Linked DNA regions of Homo sapiens: region 2 is reported to be linked to region 1. Evidence: microRNA targets listed by miRTarBase, many of them from high-throughput screens and not tested one by one. Region 1 holds a microRNA gene; the other region holds the end of a gene's coding sequence.
What was found. Region 1 holds the annotated microRNA hsa-miR-371a-3p (AAGUGCCGCCAUCUUUUGAGUGU, at 3,460-3,482, shown strand). A microRNA usually pairs through its seed, bases 2 to 8, with sites in the 3' UTR of a target mRNA and lowers its output. Matches are read on the target gene's strand: a 7mer-m8 pairs with bases 2 to 8, a 7mer-A1 pairs with bases 2 to 7 and ends in A, and an 8mer does both.

Region 2: miRTarBase lists SPN as a target of hsa-miR-371a-3p. Seed matches in the 3' UTR shown: 7mer-A1 at 1,187-1,193.

What each region holds. Positions count from the first base shown.
Region 1 is chr19:53,784,257-53,791,378 of GRCh38, forward strand. MIR371A (microRNA 371a) reads left to right here and starts at 3,419; the gene lies at 3,419-3,485. MIR371B (microRNA 371b) reads right to left here and starts at 3,486; the gene lies at 3,421-3,486. It overlaps MIR372 (microRNA 372), which reads left to right and starts at 3,634; the gene lies at 3,634-3,700. MIR373 (microRNA 373) reads left to right here and starts at 4,449; the gene lies at 4,449-4,517. It also overlaps LOC124904767.
Region 2 is chr16:29,664,026-29,671,134 of GRCh38, reverse strand. SPN (sialophorin) reads right to left here. Exons shown (of 2, transcript NM_003123.6): 2 at 259-7,109. The coding sequence ends at 6,204. Among named protein-coding and RNA genes, the nearest start is that of SPN, 4.3 kb to the right of the region's middle. RefSeq lists a silencer at 6,784-6,903.

The DNA.
Region 1 (7,122 bases):
ATTCTTTGTTTTTTTTTTTTTTTGAGACAGAGTTTTGCTCTTGTTGCCCAGGCTAGAGTGCAATGGCGCGATCTCGGCTCACCACAACCTCCGCCTCCCGGGTTCAAGCGATTCTCCTGCCTCAACCTCCTGAGTAGCATGCACCACCACCCCGGCTAATTTTGTATTTTTAGTAGAGACGGAGTTTCTCCATGTTGGCCAGGCTGGTCTTGAACTCCCGACCTCAGGTGATCCGCCCACCTCGGCCTCCCAAAGTGCTGAGATTACAGGTGTGAGCCACCGTGCCCAGCGGATCTTTTTTCTTTTCTTTTTTCTTTCTTTCCAGGGATGGGGTCTTGCTCTGTCACCTGGGCTGGAGTTCAGTGGCAGGATCAGGCCTCACTGCAGCCTTGAACTCATGGGCTGAAGAGATCCTCCCACCTCAGCTTTCCAAATTGCTGAGATTACAGGCTTGAGCCACTGCCTGCAGTCCTCTTTCAAATGCACTTAAAAATCGTCTTTGACTATACTCTTTGTTGAATGTTGATTAAATTCAATTGCACTAATAACATTTTTTATATTCAAAAATACAAACGTTGGCCGGGTGCGGTGGCTCACGCCTGTATTCCCAGCACTTTGGGAGGCCGAGGCGGGCAGATCACCTGAGTTTGAGAGTTTGAGAACAGCCTGACCAACATGGAGAAACCCCGTCTCTACTAAAAATACAAAATTAGCCGGCGTGGTGGCACATGCCTGTAATTTCAGCTATTCGGGAGGCTGAGGCAGGAGAATCACTTGAACCTGGGAGGCGAAGGTTGTGGTGAGCCGAGATCGAGCCACTGCACTCCAGCCCGGGTGGCTGAGGGAGACTCCGTCTCAAAAAAAAAAAAAAAAAGTCAGCAATGAACTCGCTGTGCTGGCCCAAGGGCAGGAGAAGAAAGCCGCCCTTAAAGGAGAAATTTGCAAAGACAAAATGAGGTGATGAGAAAAAGCCGAGTTCTAGGAAATACCCGAGAGATCATCCAGGTGGTTCACAAATAGCAGAAAATCCAGGTGCAGTGTGAGAGGAGTGAGTAGGTTAGATAGGAATCTGGATGGCTGAGCTGTAAGGACATAAGCACTGACCTCCCGCAACCTTGACAAAGATCAAAGCAAGAATTTTTTTTTTTTTGAGATGGAGTCTGGCTCTATCACCCAGGCTGGAGTGCAGTGGCGTGATGTGAGCTCACTGCAACCTCTGCCTCCTGGGTTCTAGCGATTCTCGCCAAACATGCTATTTGCTGTCTCATTTCTATCTCTCGCCATCCTTTGCAGCAAATGCTGTACATTTTCATTGATGAAGGAACTAGGTTTAACCAGAAAGGTTGAGCACGTACTCCCGCAGCTGGCTAGGATTACAAATGGGAAGGAAACCCTGGCCTCCTGGGGCCCCAAGTCTTCCCCTTCCTTGAGTCATTCATTATTTTGAGCACTTACCATTTTCAAGCCCCTCCTCACCTCTCCAACACCCACCTTTTTGAGTTCCTCTCTATGCCTCAAGGTCAAAGGAACTCTAGTGGTTTCATTAAATAAAATCAGAAATGTTTCCGCTTTTTTATCAAAGTTGCTCTCAAAAATGTTCACTGCCGCACTGTTTTTTTCTTTTCTCCCTCTCTTTTTTTTTTTGAGACTAAGTCTCACTCTGTCGCCCAGAATGGAGTGCAGTGGTGTGATCTCGGCTCACCGCAACCTCCACCTCCAGGGTTCAAAGGATTCTCCCACCTCAGCCCCCTGAGTAGCAGGGATTATAGGTGTGAGCCACACCGCACCCAGCTTTTTTATTTTTTTAAAATTTATTATTATTATTTTTGAGATGGAGTCTCACTCTGTCACCCAGGCTGGAGTGCAGTGGGGCGATCTTGGCTCACTGCAACCTCTGCCTCCTGGGTTCAAGCAATTCCCCTGCCTCAGCCTCCCGAGGAGCTGGGACTACAGGTATCCACCACCACGCCGAGCTAATTTTTGTATTTTTAGTAGAGACCATGTTGGCTAGGATGGTCTCGATCGCTTGACCTCGTGATCTGCCTGCCTCGGCCTCCTGAAGTTCTGGCATTATAGGCATGAGCCACTGTGCCCAGCCTATTTATTTATTTTTTGAGACACGGTCTCACTCTGTCCCCAGGCTGGAATGCAGTGGCACAATCTTGGCTCACTGCAACCTCTGCCTCCCGGGTTCAAGCAATTCTCTTGCCTCAGCCTCCCAAGCAGCTGAGATTACAGGTGCACACCACCATGCGTGGGTAATTTTTGTATTTTTTTGGTAGAGACGGGGTTTCGCCATGTTGCCCAGGCTAGTCTCGAACTCCCGGCCTCAAGTGATCGTCCGCCTCGGCCTCCCAAAGTGCTGGGATTACAGGTGTGAGCCACTGCGCTCTGCCAAAATACTATATTTAAATATTTGTTGAGTGGATGACTGGTGGAATGATTTTCTTCTGGTTATTTCTCTGTGTTTTCCAATGTATTTATAACGAATACATGTTGGCGTTACTAGTAATAGGGATCACCTAATTTCTATTTGAATCAGTGTTTGAAAAAGTTTATGAAGGTGTGTCTGACTAAGGCAAGCTAGGATCAAAGGGAGCAGGGTGGCTTGGGGCGGAGACCAGGGGGAATGAGAGGGTGGGAAGGGGTGGGCTTTAATCCTATCAAAGTTGAGTGGGCTCTCACCCTATATAAGAACGCAGCTGCAGTGAACCTTGTTCTTTCTGGCAGACCTGAGGTGTGGACGTATCATTGGCCTCTGTGAGTATTGCTATGTTATTTTATTTTCTTTCATTTTACTTTATTTTTTAGGGTCAGGATCTCACTGTCGCCCAGGATGAAGTGCACAGGTAGGATGATGGCGCCTTGCAGCCTCGACCTCCTGGGACTCACCCTTTTAGCCTCCAGTAGCTGGGACCACAGGCGCGCACCACCATTCCCATGTGCGTTTTTCTGCTTTTTTTTTTTTTTTTTTAGGAGAGATGGGGTTTTCTATGTTATCCAAGCTGGTCTCGAACTCCTGGGCTCAAGAGCAATCCTACCACCGTAGCCTTCCGAGTAGCTGGGACTACAGGCTTGAGCCACTCCGCCCAGCCGGGCTGTACTTTTGTTCTATTTCTGTGATTTTTTTTCAGTCTTAAGGACGAAGGCCCCACTGTCCCTCACACGTGTTCCTTCCTACTTGCATTGTACTCAGTCCTCATGGCTTGCATCTGGAGGCTATGGGCGGGGGAGTGCTTTGAATATCTATACGTGGAAAGCCTTGTTTTTTACTTTTTAAGAAAGGGTCGTTAAATTCGTGCTTTGTAGACCTTCAACAGCTCATCAAGGGCTACTCTCCACCTCCTTGCTTAAAAGCCTCTTCTGATGGGTAAGTGCTTCCACTTGCGATCGCCGCCTTGCCGCATCCCCTCAGCCTGTGGCACTCAAACTGTGGGGGCACTTTCTGCTCTCTGGTGAAAGTGCCGCCATCTTTTGAGTGTTACCGCTTGAGAAGACTCAACCTGCGGAGAAGATACCATTTTGATTGGGTGAGGGGGCGGGTAGCAGGATGGCCCTAGACCCTGCCTATGGCCGTTTCCTCGTGATATAAATTTCTTGGCCGGGGCTCTTGCAGATGGAGCTGCTCACCCTGTGGGCCTCAAATGTGGAGCACTATTCTGATGTCCAAGTGGAAAGTGCTGCGACATTTGAGCGTCACCGGTGACGCCCATATCAACGGATGCCGTGGAGCTCGGTCTTCTGCAGGAACTAAAGAGCCTGTGGTTTCGATTCCCAGCCGGAAACTGTCTTGGGTACAGGTCCCTTACAGCGTCTGGCTGTAATGGCTCCGGAAAACCTGGGGAAGGGAAGGGGGCCTCCTGGGCTCTCACCTGACACAACTAAGGGAATCTGGGTTAGATGGTGAAAGGAAGAGAAGGTTCAGAGGGCGGCTGTGCGCCTGCGCCGGGCGCGGCGGCTCACACCTGTAATCCCAGCACGTTGGGAGGCCGAGGCAGGCGGATCACGAGGTCAGGAGATCGAGACCATCCTGGCTAACACGGTGAAACCCCGTCTCTACTAAAAATACAAAAAATGAGCCGGGCGTGGTGGCGGGCGCCTGTAGTCCCAGCTACTTGGGAGGCTGAGGCAGGAGAATGGCGTGAACCCGGGAGGCGGAGTTTGCAGTGAGCCGAGATCGCGCCACCGCACTCCAGCCTGGGCGACAGAGCAAGACTCATTCTCAAAGAAAAAAAAAAAAAAAAACAGCAGCTGTGACCAAGGGGCTGTATGCACAAAGAAAGGAATGCTTTTTGCTGTTGGTGTTATAATTGATATGTAACTTTCCTCTTCCCCCATAGCAAGCAAGTTTATTGCTGACATTTAACATGTGCTTGGATGATTGGAGGCCAACCTCTTGTAGGCAAGAAAGTCACAGTGATGGCAGATCCTCGCGAGGAGCTCATACTGGGATACTCAAAATGGGGGCGCTTTCCTTTTTGTCTGTACTGGGAAGTGCTTCGATTTTGGGGTGTCCCTGTTTGAGTAGGGCATCACGAACCATCCTGCTTCAAGGGAGCCTGCGGGTCTGACTGCAGCTTCAGCTATGACCTGGAGTTCCCGGGCTTCTCTGCGGGGCACCAGTCTGTATGCTCCATTTTAGATAATAAAAATTGGCATATTCTGGGGTGGGCAGGATACGGGGTTCACCTGCAGATGAACAGGGCAGGAAAAGCTTGATGGGGTGTCGGGGGAATCTGGTTGGCCTTAAAGGGAATTTGGGGTCCTGTTCCTGAATTTGGTAGGCAGCATGCATGTAAGGCTTGAAGTGGGTTTGGCCAGAGCATGGGCTGGAGTGCTTCCACCCTGCTACACGGACAATGCCACAGTCTCACTTTTCCTAACTTTTTTTTTTAATAAAATGTGAACAACATCATGTGTTTCTGGTCTATTGGGTTCCTCTGCCACCCACAAGTGCTGGGATTACAGGCATGAGCCTCATGTCTGGCGTTACTGAACCTTCTTCTATGACCCAAGTACATTGCCTAAAAATACTTGTCAGTATTTTGTGCTTCCCTTCTACCCCTGCTAGAACTTAGAGTTATGCTCTTTGAGAGTTCTGCTCTTTAAACTTCAAACAAGTTTAAAAAGTAAGGCCGGGCACAGTGGCAGCACTGCCGAGGCCGACGCAGGCTGATCATGAGGTCAGATCAAGACCATCCTGGCTCACACGGTGAAACCACATCTCTACTAAAAAATACAAAAACATTAGCCGGGCATGGCGGTGGGTGCCTGTAGTCACAGGCTGAGGCAGAAAGGGCATGAACCCGGGAGGTGGAGCTTGCAGCCAGCCGAGGTTGTGCCACTGCACTCCAGCCTGGGTGACAGCGATAACTGTCTCAAAAAATAAAAACCACCCAGGCTGAAGTGTGGTGGCACCATCACAGCTCCCTGCAGGCCTGAGCTCCCTAGATCAAAAGATCTTCCCATATAAGCCCCCCCTCACCCCACCCTTAGTAGCTGGCACCACAGGAGTGTCCCCGCCATGCTCCACTAATGTTTAGTAGAAATTGGGGTCTCATACATTGGCCAGCTTGGTCTGAAACTTAGGGGGAATCAAACATCCCTCCTTTAGTAGAGATGGGGCTTTACTGTCTTGCCCTGGGTGGCCTCCCTGGGATGATGGGTGTGAGCCACAGTGCCAGGCCTAAGTTCATATTTGGAAGGTTTTTTTGCTTCAGATGGTCTCGTGCTCTCGCTCAGGTTGGAGCGCAATGGCGCAATCTTGGTTCACTGCAACCTCTGCCAGCTTAAGCGATTCTCCTGCCCCCGCCTCCCAAGTAGCTGGGATTACAGGCATAAGCCACCACGCCTGGCTAATTTTTTGCATTTTTTAGAGATGGGATTTCTCCACGTTGGCCAGGCTGCTCTGGAACTCCTGACCCCAGGTGATCCACCCACCTCGGCCTCCCAAAGTGCTGGGATTATAGGCGTGAGCCACCACGTGGGGCCTTCAGTAGGTTCTTAGTTGCTGTTTGCCCTATCACTGGTTTCCGGGTCTGCTGGCCACTATCCCCTGTAAGTTTTCCTATCCCCTGTAGGTGTTCCAAACCCTTGCGGCTGCTTTGCCCACTCCACAGTATCTGAACTGAAGTAAGATCTCAAATTCAAGGGAGTTTTGTTTTGCTATTTGTACCCGCAATTCATAAAGCAGTTGTAGCCTCTGTCCCAATACCGCCACCACTGGTGGGGAGTCCGCCACGGTAACCAGTAAGACTTCTCTTTATATTTGACCTACCTGGGCCTCCTGTCATCTTTTCTACGGGCAGCTTGGGGATTGTTAGTTGAGGGTTTTTTGTTTTTGTGTTTTTTTTTTTGTTTTTTTTTTTTTTTAAAGAGATGGAGTCTCGCTCTGTCGCCAGACTGGAGTACAATGGCATGATCTTGGCTCACTGCAACTTCCACCTCCCAGGTTCAAGCGATTCTTTTGCCTCAGCCTCCCGAGTAGCTGGTATTATAGGCACCCACCACCATGCCCAGCTAATTTTTTTTGGATTTTTAGTACAGATGGCGTTTCCCCATGTTGGCCGGGCTGGTCTCACTAAACTCCTGACCTCAAGTGATCCACCCACCTTGGCCTCCCAAAATTCTGAGATTACAGGTTTGAGCCACTGCGCCCAGCCTTTAGTTGAGTTTCTTAAGCTTGTTTAGGGTTTAGCCTGTATGGCCAGCAGGGTGTAGGTGGGGGTGGTTTGTAAGCAGGGCTGTTTGCTTCAGAAGCAGCTGTGGAAACAGGACTGAATGCAGACATATAAAGAATATTGGGTAAATAACTTTTTAAAAAATTTAGAGATAGGATCCCACTATGTTGCCCAATCTGGTCTTGAAACCTAAACAATCTCTTATCCCAAAGTGCTGGGATTGCAGAAAGCTTAAGGCACAGTTTTACGTGGTAATGGTGGGCCATTTTTAGTTTCTTTTTTGTAGACGATCATGTCATCTAGGCTGGAATGTAGCGGTTCTGTCGAGCTAGGTGTAGCCTCCACTTCCTGGACTCAAGCATTTTTCCTCAGCTTCAGTAGCTGGGTCTATGCATGAATACCCCTTCTGGGGTAGATAGATAGTAGTACATAGAGTAGATAA
Region 2 (7,109 bases), not on the chromosome of region 1:
CGCGTGTGGTTCCAGCTACTCAGGAGGCTGAGGCAGGAGAATGGCATGAACCCGTGCCACTGCACTCCAGCCTGGGTGACAGGGTGAGACTCCGTCTCAAAAAACAAAAACAAAAACAAAAACAAACCTCAGAACTCAATTCAAACTCTTGAACTTTTCATAGCATGGCTCCAACCTCCACTTGCAGCCTCATCCCCTACCACTCTCCTCAAACCAGACACCCCCAGGCCACCCCCTTGAACACCTTTTTGACCACTATTTTTTCATATTGTAAAAGTAACAGATATTTATTGTATGAAATTCGGAAAATACAGAAGAGCATAAACAAAATAAAAATCACACATAAACTCACCACTTTGGAGATCAGCATGGAAAACATTTGCGATGGGTCCTTTGTTTCCCTATAAGTGCATATATGGTTGGGAATTTTTATTACAAAACTAAAATCATATGTATTACAGAGGAGTAACTTGCTTTTTTCCCCACTTAACATTATATTGCTGGTATTTTCCAAAGTCATTACATAATTTTCAAAAACATGATTTTTACTGACTATAAGTTCAATAAGCCATTTACAATTATTTTCATAACTAATATATTTAATCTTATACCATATTTTATATTTTCTTTTTTTAAATTTTTTTCCAAGACGGAGTCTTGCTCTGTCGCCCAGACTAGAGTGCAATGACACGATCTCGGCTCACTGCAACCTCTGCCTCCCGGTTTCAAGCAATTCTTCTGCCTCAGACCCCCAAGTAGCTGGGATTACGGGGGCATGCCACCACGCCTGGCTAATTTTTGTATTTTTAGTAGAGACAGGGTTTCACCATGTTGGCCAGGCTGGTTTCAAACTGGCCTCATGATCTGACTGCCTCGGCCTCCCAAAGTGCTGGGATTACAGGTGTGAGCCACCACGCCTGGCCATGTTCTTTCTTTTGAGACAGAGTCTCACACTATTGCCCAGGCTGGAGTGCAGTGGCATGATCACAGCTCACTATAGCCTCAAACTCCTGGGCTCAAGCAATCTTCCCTGCCTTCGCCTCTTGAGTAGCTGGTACCACAGGCGCACACCACTACACCTGGCTAATTTTTCATATTTCAAATTTTTTGTAGAGATAGGGGTCTATGTTGCCCAGGCTGGTCTCCAACTCCTGACCTCAGGTGATCTGCCCGCCTCAGCCTCCTATAGTGCCACCGCATAGCCACTGCACCCAACTATTTTCTTACTGTTCCTTGCTCTATCTCCTTTTTTTTTTTTGAGATGGAGTTTTTTACTTGTCGCCCAGGCTGGAGTGCAATGGCGTGATCTCGGCTCACTGCAACCTCCACCTCCTGGGTTCAAGGGATTCTCCTGCCTCAGCCTCCCAAGTAGCTGGGATTACAGGTGCCCGCCACCACGCCCAGCTAATTTTTTGTATTTTGAAACAGGGTTTCACCATGTTGGTCAGGCTGGTCTTGAACTCCTGACCTCAGGTGATCCACCTGCCTCGGCCTCCCAAAGTGCTGGGATTACAGACGTTGAGCCACCACGTCTGGCCTGCTCTATCTCCTTTTTTTGTTTTCCTTTTTAGTCTTAAAATATCCACTGCTTCTTTTGCTTTGCTTTTTCCTCCAGAAAATTAAAAGACATCTATTGTCGGGCACGGTGGCTCACGCATGTAATCCCAGCACTTTGGGAGGCCGAGGCATACGGATCAGCAGAGGTCGGGAGTTCAAGACCAGCTTGACCAACATGGTGAAACCCCATCTCTACTAAAAATACAAAATTATCCGGGTTTGGTGGTGCATGCCTGTAATCCCAGCTACCTGGGAGGCTGAGGCAGGAGAATTGTTTGAACCCAGGAGGCGGAGGTTCTGGTGAGCCAAGATCACGCCATTGCACTCCAGCCTGGGTAACAAGAGTGAAAACTCCATCTCAAAAAAAAAAAAAAGACATCTATTTCACGTTTGTTCAAAAAAGACTCTATATTGAACTGCTCCACTTTAAAAAATATATATATAAATGTTTACTTTTTGTAGACACGGGGTCTCACTATGTTGCCCAGGCTGGTCTCAAACTCCTGGCTTCAAGCAGTCCTCCTGCCTCAGCTTCTCAAGTAGCTGGTACTACAGGCATGCACCACCACGCCTGGCTAATTTTTTGTGTTTTTGTAGAGACAGGGTCTTTCTATGTTACCCAGGCTGGTCTTGAACTCCTAGACTCAAGCAATCCTCCCTGCTCTGCCTCCCAAAGTGCTGGGATTACAGGCATGAGCCACTGCGCTGGATCTGCTCCACGTTTTTTTTTTTTAATTATGTATTTCCACCTGCTATCCCCTCTGCTGGGAATGCCTTTTCCTTTTCCCAGCTTTGCAAAATCCTTCCCAGCCTTCAAATATCTGAGGCAAGCCTGGGCACAGTGGCTCACACCTATAATCCCAGTATTTGGGGAAGCTTAGGTGGGAGGACCACTTGAGCCCAGGAGTTTGAGACCAGCCTGGGCAACACAGCAAGACCCTGTCTGTACAAATTAAAAATTAAAAAAAAAAATTAGCTGGGCATGTTGGTGCACACCTGTGATCGCAGCTACTTGGGAGGCCCAGGAGGTTGAGGCTGTGGTGAGCTGTGATTGCACCACTGCCCTCTAGTCTGGGTGACAGAATGAGACCTCATCTCAAAAGAAAGAATCTCTGAGGCGTCATCTCCATTCATTCATTCATTCATTCATTCATTCATTCAAATGCATATTCATGGAGGATCTGCAACATGCCAGGCACAGCAGCCACCAGGAATGAAGCAGTGGCTGGGTGCAGTGGCTCATGCCTATAGTCCCAGCATTTTGGGAGGCTGAGGCAGGTGGATCTCTTGTGCCCGGGAGTTTGAGACCAGCCGGGACAACATGGTGAAACCCCATCTCTACAAAAAATACAAAAATTAGCCAGGTGTGGTGGTTCTCATATGTAGAAAACAATAAAAATAATTTTTAAAGAAAGGAATCAAGCAGTGGATATGACAAAGGCCACGACACACTCTCAGGTGAAGCCTTCCAACCTTTCGCCAGGGCAATGCGAGCCCTTCTGCTCAGCCACTGGAATCTCTTCCTCAAAGTCTCCCTTGCCACAGTACACATGCATGGGAGAACATGCATGCACACACACATGCGCGCACACACACACATGCGCACACACATGTGCACACATACACACACAGGCACATGCACGCACGCACATGCACGCACGCACATGCACACGTACACACATATGTGCACACACGCATGGCTTGGTAGGCTTCACCTGAGAGTTATGAATGCACCATTTTCCTTGGTGCATTCATAACACTGTTTGTGCCTCTCTTTTATTTATTTTATTTATTTTTATTTTTTGAGACAGTCTCACTTTGTCACCCAGCCTGGAGTACAGTGGCATGATCCCGGCTCACTGCAACCTCTGACTCCAGGGTTCAAGCAATTCTCTGGCCTCAGCCTCCTAAGTAGCTGGGATTACAGGAGCACACCACCATGCCTGGCTAACTTTTGTATTTTTAGTAGAAACGGGGTTTCATCATATTGGCCAGGCTGGTCTCAAACTCCTGACCTCATGATCTGCCCACCTTGGCCTCCCAAAGTGCTGAGATTACAGGCGTGAGCCACCGCACCCGGCCTGTGCCTCTCTTTTAACACTTATATTTTGATATTTTCTGGATTGTGAAAGCCCTGTTGGGTGCCTTCCTTACCCGTACTACCTCTTTTTTTCAGGATTCGCCCAGGACCTGACTAAAACCAGTCCTGGCTTAGAAAACAACCATATCTGTCAAAGGAAAGGGAGGTGGAGCTGAGGACAGCGACGTTCGTTCGGTGACAGTATTTTCTAAACCTGATATGGGGGCTCTTATTTTAACAACTCTAAGACAACAGTGTCTCTAAGGGATTTTGGACATGGCCTCTGTCATTCTGCAGCTGCAGTGAGTCCAAATAGCAATCAGAAAAGGCCACCAGATGCAGCCCAGTGGGTGCCCAGCCTGGCTGGTAGAAGCTGGTTCCATCCGAGCTCAGCTCTTCCCACCCACTAAGCAAGCCCCTTCCCGCTCCCTCCCTCCGTCTCCTCTCCCACTGCACGAGCCCATCCCCCACCTGACCCTTTCCCCCATCTCCTGCCCAGGCCACAGAGCAGGGCTGTCACACTCACATGCCTCCCCTGTCTTTTTTTGCAGGTCAACCTGTCTGCTCTCAGCCACCGCAAGCTCTAACTCAACAACTTCCTCTTTGAAAATTTCCTCTTTGTCCTCGGGAAATACCAACTGCCCTGGCCCATGTGTGCTCCTGGGCTGTAGCCTGGGCTGGTCTCAAAGGCAGCACCATTGAGTTCTCCCCTCTCCACCCAGGCCCCACAGGGGAAGTCCCTGGCTCCAGGCCCCTCCTTCACTCACTCTCACTGGTTCCTCTTGGAGGATGGAAGGGGCTCAGCCCCTGGGATGGAAGAGGAGACACAGACAAACTAAACCTGGAAACGTGCAGTGGGGAAGCGCCAGCCAGACCAGTCCCCGAGACCAGGGCAAACCCCTCTCCCCCTGCCTCTGTTCGCAGGAGAGCGCGCGCGCGCGCGCGTGTGTGTGTGTGTGTGTGTGTGTGTGTGAGAGAGAGAGAGAGAGAGAGAGCGCACATGCATGTGTACTGCAGAAATGGAGACTTCAAGGAAGGGATTACCATGGCTGAGCTGAAGAACTCATATTTGGGTCACACATACGATCTTTCCATGAAGCCTGGCTTTCTTTTTCTTTTCTTTTTTGAGACAGGGGCTCACTCTGTTGCCCAGGCTGAAGTGCAGTGGTGCAATCACAGCTCACTTCAGACTCGAACTCCTGGGCTCAAGCGATCCTCCTGCCTCAACTTTCCAAAGTGCTGGGATTAAAGGCACCAGCCACTGTGCTCACCCTGGCATTCTGTATGGGGCTACAGACAGAGTTAGATTTTCTGCTATGTCCACCCCATCAGAGCAAAGATGACACGCACGTTCTCAGCAGTCCCTGTGTCCCCCATGCCCAGGTTGACCCTCTTCAGTCTCTGCACCACTTCCCACCCCCACACCGTCTGTACCCACAACTACCCCTCCCAAGCATCGCCAAATCCTCAGCTCTTGCACACAAACCACACCCACGAGTGGACACACGCAGGCACTGGGGTTTCTGAGAACTACACCCAGCCAGAAACTCGGAGGAGAAACCGTGAGGCCTCTGGCTGCCTCTGTCCATGGCTGGGGAGAGTGTGGTGGTGTGGGCCAGGGCCAGCCTACAGTCCATGTGCCCTGGGAAAGATCACAGGCCCGCCTGAGAGCATGGGCTGGTGGCCCCACCCAGCCATGCTCCAGGCTGGCCTGGGGGGCCCAGAGCTAAAGGTGGTTGCGGGCTGCCCAGGTTCCACAGCCCTTGCAGCTACAGGGCAAGGGTGCTTTACAAAGTTAATCCTAGGAGGGAGTTTGCCGGGTTCTCTTGTCCTTCTTCCCAGACTCTGGTCAACCCAGGGTGGGTTCTGGGGGAAAAGGAGAATTGTCAAAGAAATCACAGGGCAGATAAGTTTGGCCGATGGAGACTCAGCAGCCGTTTCCAGGAACAAGAAAGAGGGGGAAATGGTGATGGAGATAAATAGGGGTGGATGAGGAGGGTTTATTCATTCAGTCCACAGACGTTGAGAGGTGCCAGCCCTGCCCTGCCCAGGCGCTAGTTGTGGGTGCTGGGTGAGGATGGCAGCAGGAAATCCAGGGCTGAGAAGCCTCATGAGGATTCAGAGTGAAGAGGTGGGTGAGGAGGCAAGGCGCGGAGGCTCATGTCTGTAATCTCAGCACTTTGGGAGGCTGAGGCAGGTAGATCACCTGAGGTCAGGAGTTTGAGACCAGCCTAGCCAACATGGTGAAACCCCATCTCTACCAAAAATACAAAAAAGCAGCTGGGCATGGTGGTGGGTGCCTGTAATCTCAGTTACTCGGGAAGCTGAGGCAGGAGAATCGCCTGAACTTAGGAGGCAGAGGTTGCAGTGAACTGAGATCGTGCATTGCACTCCAGCCTGGGCGACAAAGCGAAACTCTGTCTCAAAAGAAAAAAAAAAAGGAGATTCGGGTGAGGATCAGGGTGCCGGGTGGAAACATGGGAGCGAGGGGGCAGTGGGATGGTGAGAGGGAAGGTGCTGGAGGCTGGCTGAGATTCCGGCCTCCAGCCTCACTATTCACCGACACTTAAGGGGCAGCCCCGTCTCCCCCTTCGGGCTCATCAGGAGCTGGGGCGTCCACAGCCCCATCCTCACTGGCCACCAGTGGCTCCTCCTCCCCTTTGAGGCTGGGGCCTGACCCAGACTTCAGCTCCTCCATCGCCAGGGAGCCCTGGCGAGACTTCCGTCTGCCAAAGAAAGTGGTGAGCGTGGGCCGACGGCTAGACCCCTCCCCATCGGGGAACCCAGAGCCCTTGTCGCCCCCGGACCCTCCCACGGTCACTGTCACGGCCCCCTCCTCAGGGACCTGGGCTGGCCCAGCCCAGGCGTCCACCACCCCGTTACGCTTGCCGCCTCTGCTCAGCACGAGGGCCCCAGTCCGCCGCTTCTGCCGCCGGCGCCACAGCAGGAGCAGAGCCACGAGGACTATGACCGCCAGCAGGGCCACAAGCACAGCCACTGGCAGCATGCCTCGTGAGTTCTCATCTGGGTTCCGGAAGGGCACAGTGCTTGCGTTGGTGGAGGTCGTTGGAGACATCATTGTAGATAGTTTTACGCTAGAGACCTGGGGTCCACTGGCCCCGCTGGAGGGCTCCAGAGAGCCAGTTGTCATGGTAACAGGGGGTCCAGTGGTCCCAGTGGAGGTCTCCAGAGAGTCAGTTGCCATGGTAACAGGGGGTCCAGAGGTGCCTTTGGAAGTCTCCAGAGAGACAGTTGCCATGGTAAGAGGGGGTCCAGAGGTGCCTCTGGAGGTCTCCAGAGAGCTAGCTGCCGTGGTAACAGGGGCTCCACTGGTCCTACTGGAGGTTTCTGGAGAGTTCGTTGTTATGGTTCCACCTGTCACGGTGTGGGATCCTAGAGAGTTTGCTGTTATGGGAACAGCAGGATGACTGGTTGCATGAGGGGTTTCCTGGGGCACTGATGACATCTTGAT